Homo sapiens: one gene and its partners. The protein of the gene in region 1 purifies or fractionates together with the protein of each later gene. This does not show direct contact. Each region holds a gene or a part of one and is shown on either strand. Other genes may lie near its edges.

Evidence for each region.
Region 2: the proteins of CHN1 (region 1) and FARP2 purify together in Homo sapiens (affinity purification with mass spectrometry; one large-scale study listed by BioGRID and IntAct). This does not show direct contact.
Region 3: the proteins of CHN1 (region 1) and NAA20 fractionate together in Homo sapiens (co-fractionation; one large-scale study listed by BioGRID). This does not show direct contact.
Region 4: the proteins of CHN1 (region 1) and ALDH1A1 purify together in Homo sapiens (affinity purification with mass spectrometry; one large-scale study listed by BioGRID and IntAct). This does not show direct contact.
Region 5: the proteins of CHN1 (region 1) and SLC25A31 purify together in Homo sapiens (affinity purification with mass spectrometry; one large-scale study listed by BioGRID and IntAct). This does not show direct contact.
Region 6: the proteins of CHN1 (region 1) and NADK2 fractionate together in Homo sapiens (co-fractionation; one large-scale study listed by BioGRID). This does not show direct contact.

What each region holds. Positions count from the first base shown.
Region 1 is NC_000002.12:174,876,382-174,879,881, forward strand, and holds part of CHN1 (N-chimaerin), read right to left. Parts: intron 1,748-3,500; coding exon 1,459-1,747; intron 1-1,458. UniProt on the Homo sapiens protein: GTPase-activating protein for p21-rac and a phorbol ester receptor. Involved in the assembly of neuronal locomotor circuits as a direct effector of EPHA4 in axon guidance.
Region 2 is NC_000002.12:241,485,285-241,488,784, reverse strand, and holds part of FARP2 (FERM, ARHGEF and pleckstrin domain-containing protein 2), read right to left. Parts: intron 1-3,500. UniProt on the Homo sapiens protein: Functions as a guanine nucleotide exchange factor that activates RAC1. May have relatively low activity. Plays a role in the response to class 3 semaphorins and remodeling of the actin cytoskeleton.
Region 3 is NC_000020.11:20,020,362-20,023,861, reverse strand, and holds part of NAA20 (N-alpha-acetyltransferase 20), read right to left. Parts: intron 1,407-3,500; coding exon 1,382-1,406; intron 1-1,381. UniProt on the Homo sapiens protein: Catalytic subunit of the NatB complex which catalyzes acetylation of the N-terminal methionine residues of peptides beginning with Met-Asp, Met-Glu, Met-Asn and Met-Gln. Proteins with cell cycle functions are overrepresented in the pool of NatB substrates.
Region 4 is NC_000009.12:72,904,554-72,908,053, forward strand, and holds part of ALDH1A1 (aldehyde dehydrogenase 1A1), read right to left. Parts: intron 1,480-3,500; coding exon 1,405-1,479; intron 1-1,404. UniProt on the Homo sapiens protein: Cytosolic dehydrogenase that catalyzes the irreversible oxidation of a wide range of aldehydes to their corresponding carboxylic acid.
Region 5 is NC_000004.12:127,764,900-127,768,399, reverse strand, and holds part of SLC25A31 (ADP/ATP translocase 4), read right to left. Parts: intron 1,335-3,500; coding exon 1,180-1,334; intron 1-1,179. UniProt on the Homo sapiens protein: ADP:ATP antiporter that mediates import of ADP into the mitochondrial matrix for ATP synthesis, and export of ATP out to fuel the cell.
Region 6 is NC_000005.10:36,239,126-36,243,081, forward strand, and holds the start of NADK2 (NAD kinase 2, mitochondrial), read right to left. Parts: upstream 2,801-3,956; 5' UTR 2,674-2,800; coding exon 2,374-2,673; intron 2,267-2,373; exon of another isoform or gene 2,234-2,266; intron 1,731-2,233; exon of another isoform or gene 1,711-1,730; intron 1-1,710. UniProt on the Homo sapiens protein: Mitochondrial NAD(+) kinase that phosphorylates NAD(+) to yield NADP(+). Can use both ATP or inorganic polyphosphate as the phosphoryl donor.

The DNA of each region.
Region 1 (3,500 bases):
GCAAAGAATATAATGTCAGTATTATTCAAATACAAGCATTACTAAAAAATGCCATAAATGGAAAATCAACCAATAGTCAGAAAATGGGAACTAGACCATGAAAAGAATATTAAATACAGCAGGTATTAAGGATTTTAAGTTCTGGCTACTTCCAAACAAGATTTGTGGTTCCTAACAATATGAATATATAAAAAAACAATTTTTATACATTTTCTACAGCTTATCCTTTTAAATGTTGTTTTCTCCGTAGCAACAAAATGCCAATGTAAGATCTGCCAAAAACTAAAATTTGAGCTGGACACAAACTTTCTTATTTCCATTCTGTACCCAAATACTCTAAGGTAATGGGAAGTTATTTGAGGATGCTGCCTTGAGGTCAGATGGCTGCTATATAATAACATTACCACCAAACTACATTGAGTGTCTACATGTGCCAAGTGCTGATGGAGCATTTTACGCTTGCTATCTCACTCACTCCTCACAGCAATTTGACCATTATTACAATTTTACAAATAAGACAATCAAAAGCACAGACAAATTAGGTATTACAACTTGCACACAAATCTTGCATAGAATCCGAGCTCAAGACCTATTGCATTTCTTTGGTTTAGCAATTGAAGATTCTTAAAAACATAAAAATGAATTGACACAGTTCCAATTACAATACCTAAAATGCCCCCAACTAAATGTCACACACTATAAAACATCAGGAAAATCTCTTACTTTTTTCTTGGGGGTGAGGAGGAGGCTGGTGGCAATTTTCAAAAGTAAAATAATCTTAATGCCAAGAAATTAAAACTTTTATGTTAACCTGAAATATATCACAACTAAAATATGACAGCTAAAAAACTTAAATTGTCTTTTAGAATTAATTGTCTTTTATAATTAAGGAAAAGTAAAAGTGAATCTTACTCATTCAATTACTTCTTAACAGATTATAAAGAGATAAATCCTCCTCCTATTCAAGAATGACTGACTCCCAAAATGTGTGTGTATACATACACACACACATAATATACACACACACATAAAATCTTGCTAAGAACACAACTATTTATAAAGTAAATTATCTTTAAGGAAAACAAAAAAGTAATTTTGAGAGATAATGCAACCCCCTCAATTACTTACGTAATAGTAGCTATCTTTTCTTGACCAGGAGTTATGCTTCTGACCAATCCCCTGAACTATTTTTTATTAGGGGCCATTTTTCCAACATAGTTTTAAAATTGTGAAACTGATAAAACAGAAAACAACCAGGAATATAAAAATTTACCTAACATATTTTAATAGAACAAGAATTAGTTATATGCAAAGCTCAGCATCACAGAAACTAGACATTAAGAAAAATGAATATACTTTCCAAAGCACTGTGGATAAATCAATCTCTTCTGGCAATAATGGCTTTCTTAAAAGAACCCCAAACAGAAAAAGATAAAGTGTGGTTTCATAGTAGCTTACCCTTTTCTCTGACACCCCATCCTGGCCTGTAGAATCTCTCTCATCATGTGTCTCTTTCAGGACTGGCATATGTTTTTTGTATGCTGGCTCTCTGTTTAAGGTTGTGTATCCTACGTGCTCATAAATTGGGTTTATCGTCATCTTGGCAATGTATTCTGCTGCCTTGGTTTCAATATAGAGAGTAATCAAGCCATCAGTCACCAGATCGTGGATGGACTCAAAGCGTTTCTCCCCAACAAAGTGCTTGCCATCGTAGTAGAGCCTGAAGTTTCTGGTTTGACTTCCAAATCTGCCTCAATGAAATGGGAAAGATGTTTTTAAGAAAAGTAAGCAACTGAATTCTTTCTGAAAAAAAAACAAAAACAAAAAAAAACTATCGCTTTGTTTTGTGTGTGTCTTCTTTGTTTAAATAAGCTGTGGCTAATCTCTCTGAATCGTCTGGAATATATAAAATTAAACCTTTGAACACAAAGAATGAGCTTGCAATAATTAGGGACAACTAGTCAAAAGCATGCCTACCATAGAAATAATTTTTTTTATTTATCTTTTTAAACCACTTTATTATACCTGTGGAAAAAATGGGAGAAAATAAACCTCACACCACATTAAAACATAGTCAATATTCAATTGGCCAACTCCATAATAGATGACATTTCTATACTAACATTTTTTCTTCAAGTTGATCAATAAGAATATTCAATGTACTTTAGACCTCAGCAGTCATGTATTTTAATAGGAAAGCTCCATTTAGGGCTAACCAGAATATGATGCCAGCAATCACTTAAAGTAGAGCTGACTCCAGAAACCTGAGCCATGCAGGGCAGGATGGCACAGAAACACACTTTCGCTACTTCTGGCCACAGGCCAAGGACTTATTCTTTCGTTTTTAAAGAGTCATTATTCTGTCTGCTGGTTAGGTCTGTGCAAGAAATGTTTGAAATACATACGGCACAAAAGTCATAAGCTATTGGACTATAGAAATTCTGTTTTCAATTTTATGTTCTGATGATGTGCTCTAACAACTGAAGAATAATGGTTTACTTTTATGATAATTTCAGTATTTTGCTTCCTGCAGCAGACCTCAGAAATGGATCCAATTTGGCATGATTAACATCAGTGTCCTTGCAGGAAGACACAGGCAAGAAAATGCACTGACTTTAATGAAAGCAGATGTCAAAAGGCAACAAGGCAACAAGAGCTGCCAGTGTAATGGTCTCCTGAAGGTAACCCCGAGTGAGACTAATTAAAAACTAAACAAGTCACAAAGGATATATTTAATTTCATTGTTAAAAGTACAACAGAACAGGGATGAACTAAAATACTAAAATAAACGCTGTTTAAGTAAAGCGTTAAATGGGACTATAAACTTGTTATATAACAAAATTGTTCTGGTATAGGTTATATTCCAAATGAATAGGAGTTAGGAACATCTTAATGTGGAAATAAAGTATGGAAAGGAAATAAAATATTTTTTAAAATAATAGCCAGACGATGTCTGTTTCTGTAGTTCAAATTAGACTTTAATAACAATTTAATCTAGAATCCAACGTACTATCCATGTTGGCCCTTCTAAAGCATAATTTATCCATCCTTTAGTAACAATCAAATTTTGATTTACACTTAAGTGAACTATCCATATAATTACACTTTCTTGTTCTCCATTTTCCTCTAATGTTAAAGACACATTTCTCCCAAGTATATTTTCATTATAAAGCCTAAAAAATTAGACAGGTGAAATTTCTACACCAAAGTTAAATATAAAAGTTTTTCAGTTTAATATACTGCTTTCATCATTTCCTTTTTTTCTAATATACATTATCTGCAACATGGAAAGCAACTCCATAGCTTTTATAAGACTCCTACAATAATAAACACACATAGCATTGAGTCCCTTTATATTTCGGTTGTATCAGACACATTTCAATGAGGGCTCAGACCATTTTACTCCTGCTGGGACTTACGATTTTACAGTGGGCATTTCTACAGTGGATACAGAACTTAAAAACAATCCAAGCAATGGTGTCAGTCATTTAGTACTCAAT
Region 2 (3,500 bases), about 67 Mb from region 1:
TGAGATCAGTGAGAAAATGAAGGATTCAACAAATAATGGGGAGAAATGTTACATCTCAATCTAATATCTATCAAAACAAATTCTAGGCCAGGCACGGTGGCTCACACCTGTAATCCCAGCACTTTGGGAGGCCGAGGCGGGCGGATCACAAGGTCAGGAGATCGAGACCATCCTGGCTAACACGGTGAAACCCCGTCTCTACTAAAAATACAAAAAATTAGCCACCTGTAGTCCCAGCTACTTGGGAGGCTGAGGCAGGAGAATGGTGTGAACCCAGGAGGCGGAGTTTGCAGTGAGCCGAGATCGTGCCTGGGCACTCCAGCCTGGGACACAGAGCAAGACTCCATCTAAAAAAAAAAAAAAAAAAACCAAAAAAGTAAAAAAACAAATTCTAGGGAGATTAATTAAATGAGAAAACTGAAACCATTAAAAGGTGCCAATATAATATTGGCATGGGGAAGAACTTCCTGAGCCCATACTAAGGATAGAAACCCTCAAGGAAAAGACAGCCAGAGCTGACCCTGATAGGCCCTGATTTTTCAACTTTATGATGGTGTGAAAGTGATAAGCATTCAGTAGAAACGGAACTTCAAGTGCCCATACGACCATTCTGTTTTTCACTTCCAGTTTGGTATTCAACAAATTATGTGAGATATTCAACACTTTGTTATAAAATAGGCTTCATATTAGATGATTTTGCCCAACTGTAAGCTAATGTATGTTCTGAGCACATTTAGAGTAGGCTAGGCTGGCTCACGCCTGTAATCCCAGCACTTTGGGAGGCCGAGGCGGGTGGATCACGAGGTCAGGAGATCGAGACCATCCTGCCTAACACGGTGAAACCCCGTCTCTACTAAAAAATACAAAAAATTAGCCAGGCGTGGTGGCGGGCGCCTGTAGTCCCAGCTACTCAGGAAGCTGAGGTAGGAGAATGGCGTGAACCCGGGAGGTGGAGCTTGCAGAGAGCCAAGATGGCACCACTGCACTCCAGCCTGGGCGACAGAGCGATTCCATCTCAAAAAAAAAAAAAAAAAAAAAGAGTAGGCTAGGCTAAGCTATGACATCAGAGAGGTTAAGTGTATTAAATGCATTTTCTTTTCTTTCTTTTTTTTTTTTTTGAGAGGGAGTCTTGTTCTGTCACCCAGGCTGGAGTGCAGTGGTGTGATCTCGGCTCAGTGCAACCTCCGCCTCCCAGGTTCAAGTGATTCTTGTGCTTAGCCTCCCGAGTAGTTGGGACTACAGGTGCCCACCACCACGCCTGGCTAATTTTTGTATTTTTAGTAGAGACAGGGTTTCGCCCTGTTGGCCAGGCTGGTCTTAAACTCCTGACCTTAGGTGATTCACCCACCTCAGCCTCCCAAAGTGCTGGGATTACAGACGTGAGCCACCGTGCCCTGTTAAATGCATTTTTGACTATACTATTTTCCTCTTACAATGGGTTTATCAGGGCATAGCCCCATCATAAGTTGAGGAGTGTCTGTTTCAATTCACACCTTCAACAAGCATTTGCTGGGTTCCCTATATGTGCCAGATGCCATTCTAGAGTAAGAGAAACAGAACCCATCAAGATGGAGTTTAAATTCTACAAGGTAAAACTAAATTGTAGGCAAAGTAAAAAGCAGTTACTGAGAAAATAATTTGTGACTTAATAGTGTTGGTGAGCATTATCATATAAACATTTCACTAATGTGTACAAAAAACTCACAGACCAATGGAGACCAGAGTGACCAGCACGCTGAGTGATTCCTGAGAGGAAAAGCATGGAATGCCAGGACACAGGGGCCAGGCTGGCCTCACCGACAGTCCGCAGGGATGCAAAGTGAAATGATGGGGCTGCTCGATGGGGCTGCTTACCTTACCCACTTGGGAAGAGTAAGAGAGACAGGTGCCTAGCACTTTCCATGGTGGAGGGAAAGATGCATGTTTAGACCTAGCTCCTGCAGGTGGGAAGGTCAGCTGGCGCAGGTGCTCCAACAGCAATTTAGCAGGAGTGCCCAAGGCCGTAAACACCTTTGCTCAGACAAATCTACATTTTGGAATTGATCTGAAGGACATAATTAAGGATGTGCAGAAAGACAGAGATCCAACAATGTTACAGTCCTCAACAACCAGCCACAGCCAAGCGTCCAGTGACAGGTGACTAGTTAAGTGAACTGGGGCTGCCATGAAAGGAAAGGAAAACCAGTGTCCTGACAAAACAGCCCGTGGGTGATGGCAACCATGCAGCAGATGCCTGCAGCCATCACTGCTGAGTGGGTACGATGATAGAGTTCTTTTTCTTGTTTCTTTTCTCTGTGTTTTTTTTTTTTTTTTTTTTTTTTTTGAGACGAGGTCTCACTCTGTCACTGGGGCTGGAGTGCAGTGGTACGATCACGGCTCACTACAGCCTTGACCTCCTGGGCTTAAGTGATTCTCCCATCTCAGCCTCCCAAGTAGCTGGGACTACAGGCACACACCACTTTTGCTCAGCTAATTAAAAAAAAAAAAAAAAAAAAAAGATTTTTGGAGATTTGGCTTCGCCATGTTCCCCAGGCAGGTCTCAAACTCTCAGCTTCAAGCGATCCTACCATCTTGACCTCCTAAAGTGCTGGCATTACAGGCGTGAGCCACAGCAACTGGCCAGTGATGAGTGATTTCTGTCTTATACTTTCAATTATTTTTTTCTATAATAAAGGTGTAATTTTTAAAAGTATACTTTAAAACAAATGGGGTCTGCTTCCGGTGGTGGCAGATGAGCTAATTCAAACTGACCTCTTCTTGCTGAGGGCCTGAGAAGTGGAATTAAATTTTACAAACACCTGCCTGAGGGTTTTGGCGCTCATTGTCAGGAGGAGGCAGTGCAGAGGGATAAGACCCTTGAAGAAAGAACAGGGAAAGAGGACCCCAGGGAGGGAGGACCCCACTGGGGGAGGAAGGACTCCAGGGAGGGAGGACCCCAGGGAGAGAGGATCTCAGGGAAGGAGGACCCTACTGGGGGAGGGCCCTGGGGGAGGAAGACCATGGGGAGGGAAAATCCCAGGGAGGGAGGACCACAGGGAGCAAAGGAGGACCCCAGGAAGGGAAGATCCTAGGGAAGGAGGACCCCAGGGAGGGAGATCCCAGGAAGGGAAGATCACAGGGAGTGAGGGAGGACCTCAGGGAGGGAGGACTCCAGGGAGGGAATATCCCAGGGAGAGAGGACTACAGGGAGCAAGGGAGGACTCCAGGAAGGGAAGATCCTAGGGAAGGAGGACCCCAGGGAGGGAAGATCCCAGGAAGGGGAGATCACAGGGAGTGAGGGAGGACCTCAGGGAGGGAGGGAGAAGCCGATGGAGGGAAGATCCCAGGGAGGGAGGGAGGACTCTAGGAAGGGAAGATCCTAGGAAAGGAGGATCCCAGGGAGGGAGGACCACAGGGAGGGAAGATGCCAGAGAGGGAGGGAAGATCCTAGGAAGGGAAGATCCCAGGGAATGAGGGAAGATCCCAGGAAGGGAAGATCCCAGGGAGGGAGGGAGGACTCT
Region 3 (3,500 bases), on another chromosome or scaffold:
TTGTCACTAGCAATTTATGAGAATGTTCCTCTCACCTCACCATCATCAGCACTGAGGTTTATCATTTTTTAAAATCTTGGCTGATACATAAAATATGGCATCTCATTTTGGTTTTAGTTTACATGTCTTTTGACTGATGAGACTGAACTCTTAACACGTTCATTAAGCTCCTATATGCCCTCTTTTGATAAATTACCGGTTAGCAGAACCCTCCTACCCACCTACAGTAGATACAGAGCATAACACAGAATCCGAACTTTGTGTTGTAAGCCACTAGAGATGTGGGGTTATCTGTTACAGCAGCATAACCACAGTATCCTATCTTCACATCTTTGCCCCATTTTTCCATTAGGACAATAATAGACACTGTTCATTGTTACCTCAAAGCCTTCACTTTAGTAACAAGTCCCAATTTATAAAGCAGGGCACATTTCTGGACTCTAGATAGGATTCAGTAGACAGGTGAAGCATGAAACAGGTGCTGGTCAATGAGACAGAGCGGGCCTGTGTGGCATTTCCCAAAGGTACTCTCCTTTTTTTTTTTTTTTTGAGACGGAGTCTCGCTCTACATGTAGCCCAGGCTGGAGTGCAGTGGCGCGATCTCGGCTCACTGCAACCTCGGCTCACTGCAACCTCTGCCTCCCGGGTCCTGGTTCAAGCGATTCTCCTGCCTCAGCCTCCTAAGTAGCTGGGATTACGGAGTGAGCCACCACGGCTGGCTAGTTCTTGTATTTTTACTAGAGACGGACGGGGTTTCACCATGTTGGCCAGGCTGGTCTTGAACGCCTGACCTCGTGATCTGCCTGCCTTGGCCCCCCAAAGTGCTGGGAGTACAGGCCCAAAGGTACTCTTAAAAGGGAAGAACACCCTCACCTCCCCCTCTGCTGTTTCTGCTGCCGGAAACATGGCTGTGATGCTGTTTGCTGTGGCAACATCTGGAACAAGGTTACGGCCACCCTGGGAGGGGTAGAGTGCTTAAACTGCAAAGAGCCTGGCTGTTGGTGTCTTCATGGAAGCATCACCTGCCTGGGACTGCTTATCTCCAGACTTTGTTCACACTGGAGACTATGCAGCCACCTTGCTGAAGTCACTGTGCTTTCTGGTGAATACAGCCATGCTGACTCCTGAGGGGCAAGGTTGGCAGGGGAGCTATGATGTTACAGATTTCTACCAAGTCATGATATTAACAGTTTGTCAGCAGATCTAAGACAACTCTTGTTCTCAGTTTCACTTTTTAAAATTGCTTTCAGTGTTGCTTATGATGTTTCCTGACCTACAAGTTTTTAAACTTTTCAGTACTCCTCTGTTTTCCTTTCATTTCTGTTTTCTTTATTCTCAGTAAATCTTCATTCAACTTTTTTTTTTTTGTAAAAAAGGATACAGTTTCTGTAAGTGGATCCAAGTTACTGAAAGAAACAAGAGAAATGTCTCTAGTAAGCAGCGTTTACAATAACCAGTTGAAATAAGCCTGCTAAAGCTAACAGTAATATGCCACAAGGAAAACAAAACATGTTTCATCAACAACTTTAAGGCCAACTTTAGGGCTGAGGCAGATGATTTAATCTACCTAATAGCCATAATAAGCTGTCACAGCCACTATTAAGGTGTTTACATATTTTTTCACTTAACTGCTACTTGCTTCTTTAAAATTCAAGTTAATAAATCTACATCTTGTGTTTTCTAAGTGGCAATAAATTGCTAATGGAACTGGAGACCAACTAGGGATGTATCTCGCAGAGACAGAAGGTCAAACTCGCCCGCTGCAGCATCCAACCCCATGGATCCTCCCCGCCTGTGTCTGGGTCTTCCCTGACAATTGCTCCTTTATTCCACCCTCTAAATGTGGTCACTCCCACCACTCGGTTTTTGCTCCCCACTCCTATTCTACACTCCCACCTCCCTGTCCCCACCATCCCCATTCCTATGTGTTCAATCACGTGTTCTTAGTGGATGCCTCCCAACCTGGCTCCGATGCTGTGGGCAGCTCACCAGCACATCCCAGCACACCATTCCCAAATCTGCATTCTGAAAACCCATCTCCATCCCCTCACTTCCCTAGTCAATTAATGGAGCCACTATTTTGTCAGGTTCAAAACCAGCTACTTTTCAACTGTTCTCTTCTGATTTCTAGTCAAATTCTCCTTTGAGACCCATAACAATGCTAGTCATATCATATTTCTGTAGTCCAGCAGTTCTTAAACTGTTTGGTTTCAGAACTCCTTTACGCTAAAAAGTTACTGAAGACTCCAAAGAACTTTTGTTTATACGCGTAATATCTACTGAGATTTAAAAATTTTAAATATTCACTCAAAAATAATAAATCAATTACACGTTAACACAAATACCTTTACCAAAAAAATCACTATACTTCCGAAAACAAAACAAAACAAAATCCAGTGACAACAATGGCATTGTTTTAACAATTCTGCAACGTCCTGCTTAAAAGACAACGGGATTCTCAAGCATTTGTTATGCTTGCTGCTGAAAGATCACACCTTGGGAAGCTCCACTGTCTACTTGTGAGGGAATGACAGTGGAAAAGATGAAAAACCTTCTTAATACATCATGAAGATAGCTCTAACCTCACACAACACCTGAAACAATCTTGGGGACCCCAAACCCTGGCCCACTCCTTGAGAATCACTGCTCTAATACAGTGCAGGGAGTCACTCCACCACACCTTTCGACGACTGAACTGCTTTATCTCCTCTTGTCTGCCCACCCGCACCCTCACCTCCAGCCCCGCCATCTCAGGGGCTTCCTATTTCATCACTAAGAAGAGAAAACAGGAAGAAGTCTTTGCCAAAGTCCCCCCCCCCCCCCGCCCACCGAACCCACGCACACAGGCATCTGCACCCATATGCTACTTGCTCTCCTGTCAATAGGCACGGAGTGCGGGCGAGAGACCCCCTCAGTACTCGGGACCCTCCTCCTGCAATTCTCTTTCCCTCCTGCATCTGCATCTTCAATTTCTCTTTCCTGGAAGAAATGTACAAATATGATGTGCACTGAGCCATCAGCTCCTCTTGAACAGCTTCCCACTCCTGGGACAGCCTGAAATGCTGTCTTCACTCAGCTTCTGAGACCATGGGGTTCTCCTCTCACCTCACTGAGCCACACGGTCTCCTTTACTTGAACACTTGATGCCCTAAGGCGCCATCTTACAAACTCTTAGCCTTTTTTTCTACACTTGTGCTGACCCCCAAATTTCCATCTTTAGCTCAGACCTAATCTTGAGACGCCCATGCCCAGATGCCTTCCTGGCCCCTCCACCTGGGTTTCTTGGTGCACTTGGCAGAGAAGTTCAGGTCTTATGATGGCCTCTCCAGGCCCTGCCCTTCTAACTCTCTGCTGTTATCCCCTTACCCTCCCATGCTCACTCTGTACCAGCCATGCGGCCTGCCTCCTATTTGAAACAGGGGTGTCTTCACTTACTGTTCCCTCTATCTGGAAGCTCCCCTGGCCCCCAGTGTTCATGTAACTCATTCCTAACTTCCCCA
Region 4 (3,500 bases), on another chromosome or scaffold:
TATAAACTGCCATTAAGTTTTCAACCACTGGATTTCCAGTGGGGTCAGAACTATAGAATCTTAAGCATGGAATAGAGGTTAAAAGATCTATTTTCTTCTTCCACTCTTATCCACACTCACAATCCTTGGCCTTGTCTGACAGATGAAAATAGTGATGGTTAGAGAGATGCCATCCTGACTCTTATACTCTGGTAGTGTCTAGGTTTTCTTCAATACTTTGCTCGGTACTTTAATTGCTTCTCTACCTCCATAGGATATGGAATCCCAGTGTATTACTACTTATTTCATAGTGTATGTAGGTTATTTTGCATGTCCTGCCACCACAGCTATGTAGAGCATGGAACATGGTGTCATGTCTCTGGGGTTCCTAGGACCTTACACATAGCAAGTGCTTAATAAATGAAAGCATATTGAGAAAGTAGACTGGTCATTTTATAATTCTCCCATTTCACTGACTCTTCAGAGATATTTGTTTCCTTGTAATTTTGCTGATTTGTTAGAGTACGGTACTCAACCATTTAATACATTTAGAGATTGAGAAAGGCACATTTTCACTTCCTAATTACAAAATGAGCAAGTTTACGATCTGTGTTTGATACTATAAGGTTTCTATTTCTTTTTTCTTCATAAATGTTTACATTAATACATGTAAAAAAGTTTTAAGAAATAAAATGACTAAACTTGCCTAAACAAAATCAACTAAGCATATTGCCACTACTTTCTGTATTTACATATATATGTGCATACTTAAAAAGTCTATATACCCTAGTTTCAAAAGCAATTGAAATTTCATAAATGCATTTATATATAAATATTCTTAATCTAGTCACTACTATAAAACATGTTTTCCTCAAATTTCCTTTTAGGTTTAAGTTTTAATACTAAAAATAACTTCTTATGGTAATAAAAAATGTTAAAGTCTACATCAATAATATCTCAACAAATGGGAATCATTCCTCTTACACTGAAATTTCCTTTACATAAGTCACCTAATTTACTTATTTAAATGGTTTATTCAAATAACTAGAGTGTTTACATTTGCACCTTTCTTGCAATCACCAATGCATAGTTTCCACCTCTTTTCTGGAAATGTTTCCCAAATGGATTACATTCATATATATAGCAAGCAATTCTAAAAGCAAGCAGTATTACAATCACCAATGTAAGTTGCTTAATATAGTCCCTAAAATATAGTAGGAATTTAGTAAATTATGTTGCTGTTCTGCAATCACCTTTTGCACTTATGGAGTACATCCCACATTTAATAAGCTATTTGGTGCTATGAATCTCCAGGAAAGAACAGAGGCAGGTTTTATGTAAGGTGAAAACTATGAGTTAATTCCCTGGGAATGAAAATCATTTTCATAAAAATAAATATTTATCTTAATAGAACGTTAATCTTACAGTTCTCTTCCATTTCCAGACATCTTGAATCCACCAAAGGGGCACTGGGCACTTACCACGCCATAGCAATTCACCCTGAAGGAAAAGAAAAGTGCATTATAGACAATACTTAAGGTGTGAAAAAAAAATCCTTTTTGGCAGTTTTAGAAATTTGGAAAGCTCCTTACAAACTCCATTAATTTCATTATAACATACTCATCTTGATAAAAAAAAGTAGCACTATAAATTAGAATGCAGACATATATGGATACACACTACCTAGAAACAAATAGAATAGTGCAACTATATATATGGATAGCCATTTTGGTCGTACATTGTGTCCCTGAGAAGTGGTAGTCTGAATTTATAAAAGATAGAATAGTCACTATGCTGTAGGGGGAAAGATATGGTTTGCTAGAAGCTAGAATTTGTTGGATCAGTATTCATTACTGCTTATATATGGATCAGCTTGTAATTCTCTTGATGTTTCTGTACTTAACAGGCTAGAATCAATTTTCTTTTGCAATTGTAATATGTATCATATTACTCAGTTAATTTTTTTTCCCATTAATTGGTTAAATAAATTGCTTAAACAGAGGCCTTGGCAGGAGTTGGGTTTAATTATAATTTATTCCCTGTCATATTTCATAAAGTGTTTAAAGATGCTTATATAAACAAACATAATTACATGAATAGTAGTAATTAGAATCCAACAAAAAATTACAATAGAAGATCTAGATGGGGAAAATTAGAATGCAGTTTTGCAGACCATAAACAATTTGTTTAGCTTTAAATTTGCTGGTGGCCAAAAGTTAGCAAAATCTAATTATTTACCTGATTCTCATTATACGCAAGAGAAAAACACTTTTTAAAGGAGATTTATGTTTATACTTTTCTCTCCCTTCATGCTATTTTAATAAGTGGACAAAAATGTGGCTTCCAGAGCCTGGGTTAGTAGCTGGAGACTGAGGCAGGAGGATCACTTGAGCCCAAGAGTTTGAGACCAGCCTGGGCAACATAGCAAACCCTTGCCTCTACAAAACAAATTTAGAAAACCAACCAAACAAACAAACAAAAAACCAGGGTGGCTTCCAGATAAATTGTATTATACTTTGAAGGTTTGGTCATTACTTTTATCCTGAGATAATATTCAGATGTTTTCTTTGTTAAAACACTATCCCAGTTCCCGAAGTTCCACATTCTCACTGGACCATAAAGTTCTTAACTATGTCTCTCATCCTGGAGGGATAATTCCTTTAATAAATTTACACTTACAAAAGGCAGTATTGTCTCAGCTTTGTTTAATTGCCCTTTAAATTGCAAAATCAAATACTACTTTGAAATTATGAGTAAACTTCCTGCAACTCTGGAGTTCAATAATTTTCCTGAAAACACCAAGCAGCTATTAGGTCTGGGACAATGCCAGAAAATTATTATCTTCTAGGATATGTAGTAACAAGATGGTCCCCTCTGTTTTTCATAATAGAGGAAATTCCTGATCAGGGATTCCCAAGACCCTCAGTGGGGTGATGTCATAACAAGCTTCATCAAACAAGCATGGAACATTCTGCTAGTCGAAAATACAAAACTGAAATTTGTCTTTGTTAAAAAGTGCAGAGAGTAAATTTGCTCATTTTACTGTCAACTAGAAATGAAACTATTTTACTGTGAATTAACAGGGAACTGAGAAATGTTCACTTGGCAAAAACTTTGAGTTCAAAATGTTATCTGTCTTCTGCAAGCGTTTCCTCATGTGTAAAGTGGGGATGATAATATTTAATAGGATTGTTTCAAGGTATGCGTAAGATTGCGTGAATAGTATTCTTGTTGTAGTACTTGGTATAAATATCTTCAGTAAGTGGCGATAATATACATACACACAGTAACTATGCTGAATTTTATTAATGCTTTTATCATAGGCAAATTCTATATTCATCACTAGCTATACCGACTATTCAAGAAGAACTTGCTGAATTTTATTTAAGAGTCTCCCATTAGGCCCACTTCCTATTGCTGTTACAATGGCATTTAAATTGCCACATGGGCTTTGGAGGAGAAATTTAAACTATACACTGATATAATTTGTGTTAATGTATACCCTCCCCTGCCCCAAATCA
Region 5 (3,500 bases), on another chromosome or scaffold:
ATATTTGATGGGCAGCTTTAAAACTAGTGGAGAAATGTTCCTAAATTTCATAACTACTGCAGGTGATAACAAACTAGAGACAGAGTACACACATAACTTTTTTTGTGATTAAATAAATGTACAAGATCCTGTAATTTTCATTAACATAGCAGTCTAAAAAATACACTAAAAACTGATCTGTCCAGACAACAATAAAAATGCCATGCAACTACATTTATACTAATGAAGGAGTATAGTATAATTATTTATTATACTAATAAATAATACTGATATTAATTTCATTGCTTCCTTTTGGAAGCATTATAATGTAGTCATTAAGAACATGGATTTTTTTTTGCTTGCCTTTAACAAGTAAATTACTTAACCATTCCTAGGCTATTTACTTAACAATTCCTAGGCTATTTATCTTTAAACAAAGGGGGGATTTTATTTTTTTATTATTTATTTTAAACAACTACAATTATCTTTATTTTCTTATTACTTTTTATTTCAATAGGTTTTTTGGGGAACAGGTAGTGTTTTGGTTACATGGGTAAGTTCTTTACCAGTGATTTCTGAGATTCAAGATGTAAAGTACTTTAAAAAGTTTCCTAGAACTAGGTAATAGCTAAAAATTGGTAGCCATTGTTACAATTTTTCTTTTTCCTACCACATGGAAGTGTTCTTAAAATCTGAAATGAAAAGGTAAATTGCAGAACAACCTGGAGAATACAACACAGAATCTAACAGTATCCGGTAGATAACCAAGCTACAGTAGCATTTATTTAATTAATTTTGCTTTGTCTCCTTCTCAAAATGACATTTTATTATTTGAATATAAAAAAGTGATAATAGGGTTAACATAAAATCAGAAAAACTGTTAGAAGATGCCTTTCCATATACCAATGATTTGATTATGATGTAAGCTTAATTAGCGTGTTTTTCATTTGCAATGTGATGTACAGTGAAAACACCTCAAAAACTTAGATACATGCTTTATAACTAAAGTCAGATCCATACTGCAGTTATAATTTAATTAGGTTATGGCAAAATCATGATTAAGCAGAATTTCATGTCTCTCTTTTTTCATCACTGATTTTTATTTTTATAATTAAAAGTAACATATCTGCTGAAAACATTACTAATTAAATAAATGGAAACCATATATTTAATATGTCCAAGTTAAAGCCCCCAGATTACCTTAACTGTGTCATAAGCTCCAAAATAAGAGGCTCGGTACACAATGATGCCCTGTACTGAAACACCAAACCCTTGGTATAAACCAGCAATTCCATCTGATTTTGCTATTTTCATAATACAGTCACCTAAACCCTTGAATTGTCGCTCCTCAGGACCTAAAATAAAGCCATTTAAAATCTATTAGCAACATTATATATCCAATAAACACTTTAATCAAAATAAACCTTTACAGATCTAAATGATCTGAAATTCCCACTTACAAATCTAACAAAGAAGGCACAAATCAAAATCCTCCCATTCTTTTACAGATAATCAAGATTTCAAGTACTATCTCAAAAGAAATAAATGGAAAATATTAATCTCTCATGAAAACAATTTACTTCAAACAACCTGCCTTAAAGTATTTTATTAAAGTTACCAGAAGTTACTAATTGAGGTTCAGAAAATAATTTGAAACAGGCCAGGTGAGATGGTTCATGCCTGTAATTCCAGTGCTTTGCGAGGCCAAGGCAGAAGGACTGCTTGAGGCCAGGAGTTCGAGACCAGCCTGGGCAACACAGTGAGACCCTGCCACTACAAAAAATAAAAAAAATTAGCCAGGAGGCTGAGGCAGGTAGATCACTTGAGACTAGGAGTTGGAGGTTTCACTGAGCTATGATTGTGCCACCGTACTCCAGCCTAGGCAACAGAGTAAGACCCTGTCTCTATTAAAACAAAACAAAACAAAACAAAGAAACACTTAGAAAGGAAAAATTGGCAGGGCACAGTGCCTCATGCCTGTAATCCCAGCACTTTGGGAGGCTGAGGTGGGTGGATCACGAGGTCAGGAGTTCAAGACCAGCCTGGGCAAGATAGTGAAACCCTGTCTCGATTAAAAATACAAAAATTAGCCAGGCGTCGTGGTGGTCGCCTGTAATCCCAGCTACCCAGGAGGCTGAGGCAGGAGAACTGCTTGAACCTGGGAGGTGGAGGCTGCAGTGAGCTGAGATCATGCCACTGTACTCCAGCCTGGGTGACAGAGAAAGACTGTCTCAAAACAAAAACAAAAACAAAAAACAAAAAAAAAAACAAATAAAAAAACTCCAGGACTGTTGAAAAGCAAAAAGATAAAGCTAAAAACTAGTAAGGATAGTTTAAGATAGTTAACATTTCATATGAAGGGGTCATATTTTTCCAGTATTTTCTGGTTTTATTTTTCTTTTCCCTTGACCAAGAATTCCTTGACAATATTTTAAAACTATTATATATGTACAATGTAATCTTCCAAAAATAAACTAAATCTTCCTGATTTGAAAGAGAAAACAAAACTATGGAACTTAAAGCAAGATAATATTGAGTTATTTTTACCCTCTTATTAATAAAAATAAACTTTCAACTTCCAGTTAAATAGATGAAACTCACATTTTTATTTTTGCTCAAACTGCCACCCCTTCTGAGACATTTTCTGATCACTTATTTAAAACTGCTATCACTCTCTTCTAACTTTTTTCCCTAGCATTTATCATTAAGTGACAATATATTTTAGTCATTTATTCATTTATTATTACTTGTGTCCTCCACTAGACTCTTAGGTACATGAGGCATGAGCTCTATGTCTTACATGGGGGGTGGGGTGTGAATATGTGTGCATATATATACGCATATACACACTCACACACGCCCTGTATCTGCAGGCACCCTGTATTCCAGAAGGCACTCAATATTTGTTGAATGAATCTCTGTACCCTAAAGAAACTCTGTTACATTAATAATAATGAAATAAAACAGGTTTAAAGCCAGATAGGCCAATAAGAGAACATGACAGAATGAAATCTACAAAATTTTGCCAGATGGAGAGAATAGGGAGGAGTGGTAATTCACCAAATAGAGCAGAAAAAGCTGAACCTATTTTCTTACAGAGGAAGATACTGCTGGGAAGCAAGCCATTTGATCACAATAACCTCAGAAAGACTTAGAAATTAGAGGAACTAACTACTACTTCCAGGATGAAAGCAAAGGAGCAGGGAGATGCTCAATATCCACAACCTCACCCTGAGCAGCCAAATGACTTACTGTGCTGCCACCCACAGAACTGAACACAAGGCTCCAGATTTAACGGGGCCAGTTGTGTGACCGCTGCAATCACTCAAACACTGAAAAAAGACTCACATAAAGATATTTTATTGTGAAATATAAGATCATCAGGGATAGAAAGAAACTAAAAAGAAAAAACATATACTAAAGGATCCGGAGTAAGCAAATTGGTATCTTAAGAGCAACATTAGAAACTAGAAGTCAGGGTAATATTTTCGTAATTGTGAAGGAAAATAATTTTAAACTCA
Region 6 (3,956 bases), on another chromosome or scaffold:
CATGGTGAGACTCAAGCACTTGGCCACTTTCTTTTATATCCATCCAATTCACATGATTCACATAACTTAGTATTTTCTACCCCAGCAATATAACAAATAATACTTATCATCTTATCACTCCTATTACAGAATCCCATTTTAGGACAGCTTCACACAGCCCAGTATTCTTTGGCCTGTTAATAATCTCTCATCTGGTCTACAACTAATGCTATTGCATTCTGAGTATGGGCCTTTATATAAACTATAACACAAATTCAAATCAGTAAGGAACTTATCCAATAAAACTGTAATGACAACACCACCAACAAAAACTATTCCACTGCCTGGCAATTACAAAACTGTGTATTCTACAGCCCACGAGTTTTACTTCAAAGCTGGCTTATCCCAAACAGCATTACCTAGCAATAGACAAATATTTACCTATTAGAGATTTCTCCACTCAGAACGGGTACACTTAGGTAGTTTGACTTTTTAAGACTTATTGATTTTCCCTACATTTTAAAAGTTTTTTTATTAAGTGGTAATCTAGTTCAGAGGTCCAAGAGTTAATCCTAACTGAGATGCCACCCATTTTCTTGAGGCCTTGAAAACGTTATCCACAGTTTCAAAATGCCAGTACTGTAAAGGGCCTTGGAGGCTATCTGGTACTACCTCTGCAATTCACATACTGAATTAGGTGAAGCACTTTGAAAACTGACACTACTATACAAAAAGTATCATTTCCACCTATGAGGCCCAGAGAAGAACACACATAGGAAGTTAACCACACAGAACCAGGGCCTAGAACTGAGCTCTTCACTCTTAATCCCACACTCTGAACATGCCAAGTGAGCTATTTTAAATTGTTGTGGGAAGCTTCGATAAAACTGTATGCACATATTTATGCATACATGGCATTTGACAAATCCTACAAGCTAGACTTTGCAAAATTAGTACAACCCAAAGGGCACACCACTTTCCCCAAATAGTAACACTGTGCTTTCTTAGAACATTACTAGTCCCTATCTCACCTCTAGTTTCACTCCCTAATACAAACTCAACTACTCTAACCTCCTGTTCAAACCCTTTATTCTTTAAATGATGCAAGTGTATTCTATAAACAGTCATTTTCAAACACTTAGGAAAAAGAAAACAAATCTACACATCTAGACTCCCATCAGGTGAATGCAGGAGCCCTCTTCAGTAAACCCAACAAAGAAGCAGGATGTTTAATGTTGACAACAGATTCAGCACTTAAGCAAAGATGATTTACAATTTCATTTTGATGCCTCTACAAAATAACTTCGCTAAGATCACACGATACCAGAAGTTTCCAACAGGTTGTCTAGTCTTGCACAGAATTAAACTAAATCAGTTATGTGCAATTAATTCCAAAACCTTTTGGTGCACAGTGCCAACAATTAAGAGATTTCCAATATATTTTTCTGGACATACTGCTCATGGTAGCACCGGGCACTCTCCTTTTCCTAAAGTTGGTGGATGGTGGTATGGGATCAGAAACTGTTTTTAAAGTTGGTGGGGGGGGATGACAACAGGAAGATTCAAACTCTGGTTTTTCCCTTGGATTTGTATCTTTGCAGATATATTAATAAACATATCAAATATGGTATATTGTGGAGATACTGCTGCACAAGAGTCGCAGGCTTTTTTATTTCACACACTACCCAGTATACCAGCCCCTTGTCCTGACATTTCTCCTTAATAACGTACATATACAAGTCAAATTTTCTCCCTTTTCCTTCTTAGCACCAAAGACCTGTGCTTTTAAAACAAGCTCGTAGTGTCCAACGACCACGTTCCAGCAAGGAAAAGGCTCACGCTGAAGGACTTTCCGGAGTGCCCTAGGCCTCGCAGTCCTGCAGAGTAAAAGGGGGTGTGTCCGCGGTTGTTTCGGCCCTTTTCCCCCGGCAGCCCTCAGCGGCGCCCTGGGCCCCCTTTCTCGCGGCGGCCAGGGGAGCTGTTCGCAGGGCGTCCAGACCTCAGGCCACTGGCTCACTTTCTTGGAGTGGGTCCCAACCAGGGAACGAGGGCGGGGGCGGCGAGGGCACCAACGAATCCTCAAACCCCTCACTCTGAGGCCACTCGGCAGCCCCTCTTCGCCCTCCCCGCGGCGCCCCTGCCTCCTAAGTCCCTGCATGAACCACTGTCCCTCTCTCTCCCCCTCTCCCCGGCCCTGCCTCTCCCTCGCACACACGCCCAAAGGCAAAGGAGGCCCAGGGAGAAGCCAGAGGACCTGGGGGCCGCGAGAGAGGCAGGACCGGCATCTGCGGTGCCCTGGGAAGAGTCGTCCCGAGAGGTCCCCCCGAGGGGGCGCAGCCGCCACCAGAGCCCCGGCCGAGCCCGGGAGCGAAGCGGGGCCGAGCCAGGACCCACCAGCTGCTTCAGGTCCTCCTCCGAGAGCTCCGCGTAACGGTACCGCTGCTGCTCGAACTCGTACCGGGTGGTTTTGGCCACCACCACCACCCGGGAGGGGCGGAAGCCGCCGTCCGCGCGGCTGCCACAGCCCGCCAGCTCGCGCGGCTGCCCCTGCCCCAGGTGCCGCCGGCCGCCACCGTCACCGCCCAGCCGGGGCCGCGCGGCGGGGCCTCCCGCACCCGGTCCCCGCAGCGCCGCCGCCCGGCCGCCCGCCACGCGACAACAGCTGCCCAGCAAGAAGCCTCGGTAGCAAGTCATCGTGGGCCGGGCCGCGGCCGCGGGCTTGGGCTCGGGCCCCTTGCCTCAGCTCCCTACCGCCGGGAGTGCGCGCCGTCCGCGCCGCCCGGGCCTCTAACTTCGCGCCGGACGGGCAGAGGTTAAGTGCCAGGACGTGCGTGGCCCACGCGGCTAGGGGGACGTACCCAGGCGTTGACGAAGGCGGGGAAAGCGTGGCGATTGGGAAACGGGAGACCCCACGCGGGAGAAAGGTGGGCGGGGAAGAAATGGAGGCCCCAGCTAGTGGGTTTTGTTTGTTTGTTTATTCGTTTCACTCACGCCTGCATAATGGCTGCTTCGCCGCCCGGGGGCGACCTCCCCGCACCACACGCTTCCCCGAGGTCGCTCTTCTCCCGCCCCCAGGCTAACTCTATCGGCCAATCAGAGCCCGCGGCGGCTCCGGATCCGAGGGGCCGCGCCATTGGCTGCGGCCTGAGAAAGAGGTAGAATTCTGTTAGGCGATTGCGTCGCCCTGAGGAATCCAGCTGGATCCGGTCTGAGGCGGCGCGGGGCCAGCGGGTGGGGTTTTGAGCGGCTGGCGGGAAGGCAGGTTCCTGGCATATGCTCGCTTGGGTTCTGTTCTGCAGGCCGACCACGTGCCCATTGGTTTATTTGACCAGGGTCGGTGTGATAGCTGGTGTGTCTGGGGCCGGGCTGGGGGCTGAGGAGGCGGACCCGGCTCCTGCTGCACCGTGTGCGTGGCTTGGCACGAAATCCTCTCGGCGTGGGACCCAGTGCCCGCCCCGCTGCCCCCTGCCCCCCCGAAGAGCCCTACCTATAGGACAAAGTCCAAATGAATTAGTTCTTTGAAAGCTTTTAACTGGAAAGGAGTGAGTTAAAGCAATGTTTGATGACTATTGATCTGGCTTTGGAATCTTGGGTAGCTTGGGAGGCAAGAAGAGGAGGAAGGGATGCTGTTGGGATAATGACCCGTGGAGTGATCAGGACCTGGGCTGGGGTGTGACGAGAACAGAAGGAAACGTCCCATTGTAAGGGGAGAACCACATGGCAGTGCACATCCTGCTGTTCAATTCCGCAGCTCCTTAGATCCCCTTCCCCTGGCACTGTGTTTGCTCCTTTGTAGTCCTGGCGCTACGTCGCTTCTGGACTTTGGGCAGGTTACCTCATCTTTCTGGGCCTCAGATTCCTCATCTGTAAAAAGGGGGTTAGGGTGACCCCAAGGTTCTACCAAGTCCAAATCGATTCAGTGAATCTATGACTCTCCTCACGGGCCCACCAGCACCAGCGTTCATTCGTGGGTTCCC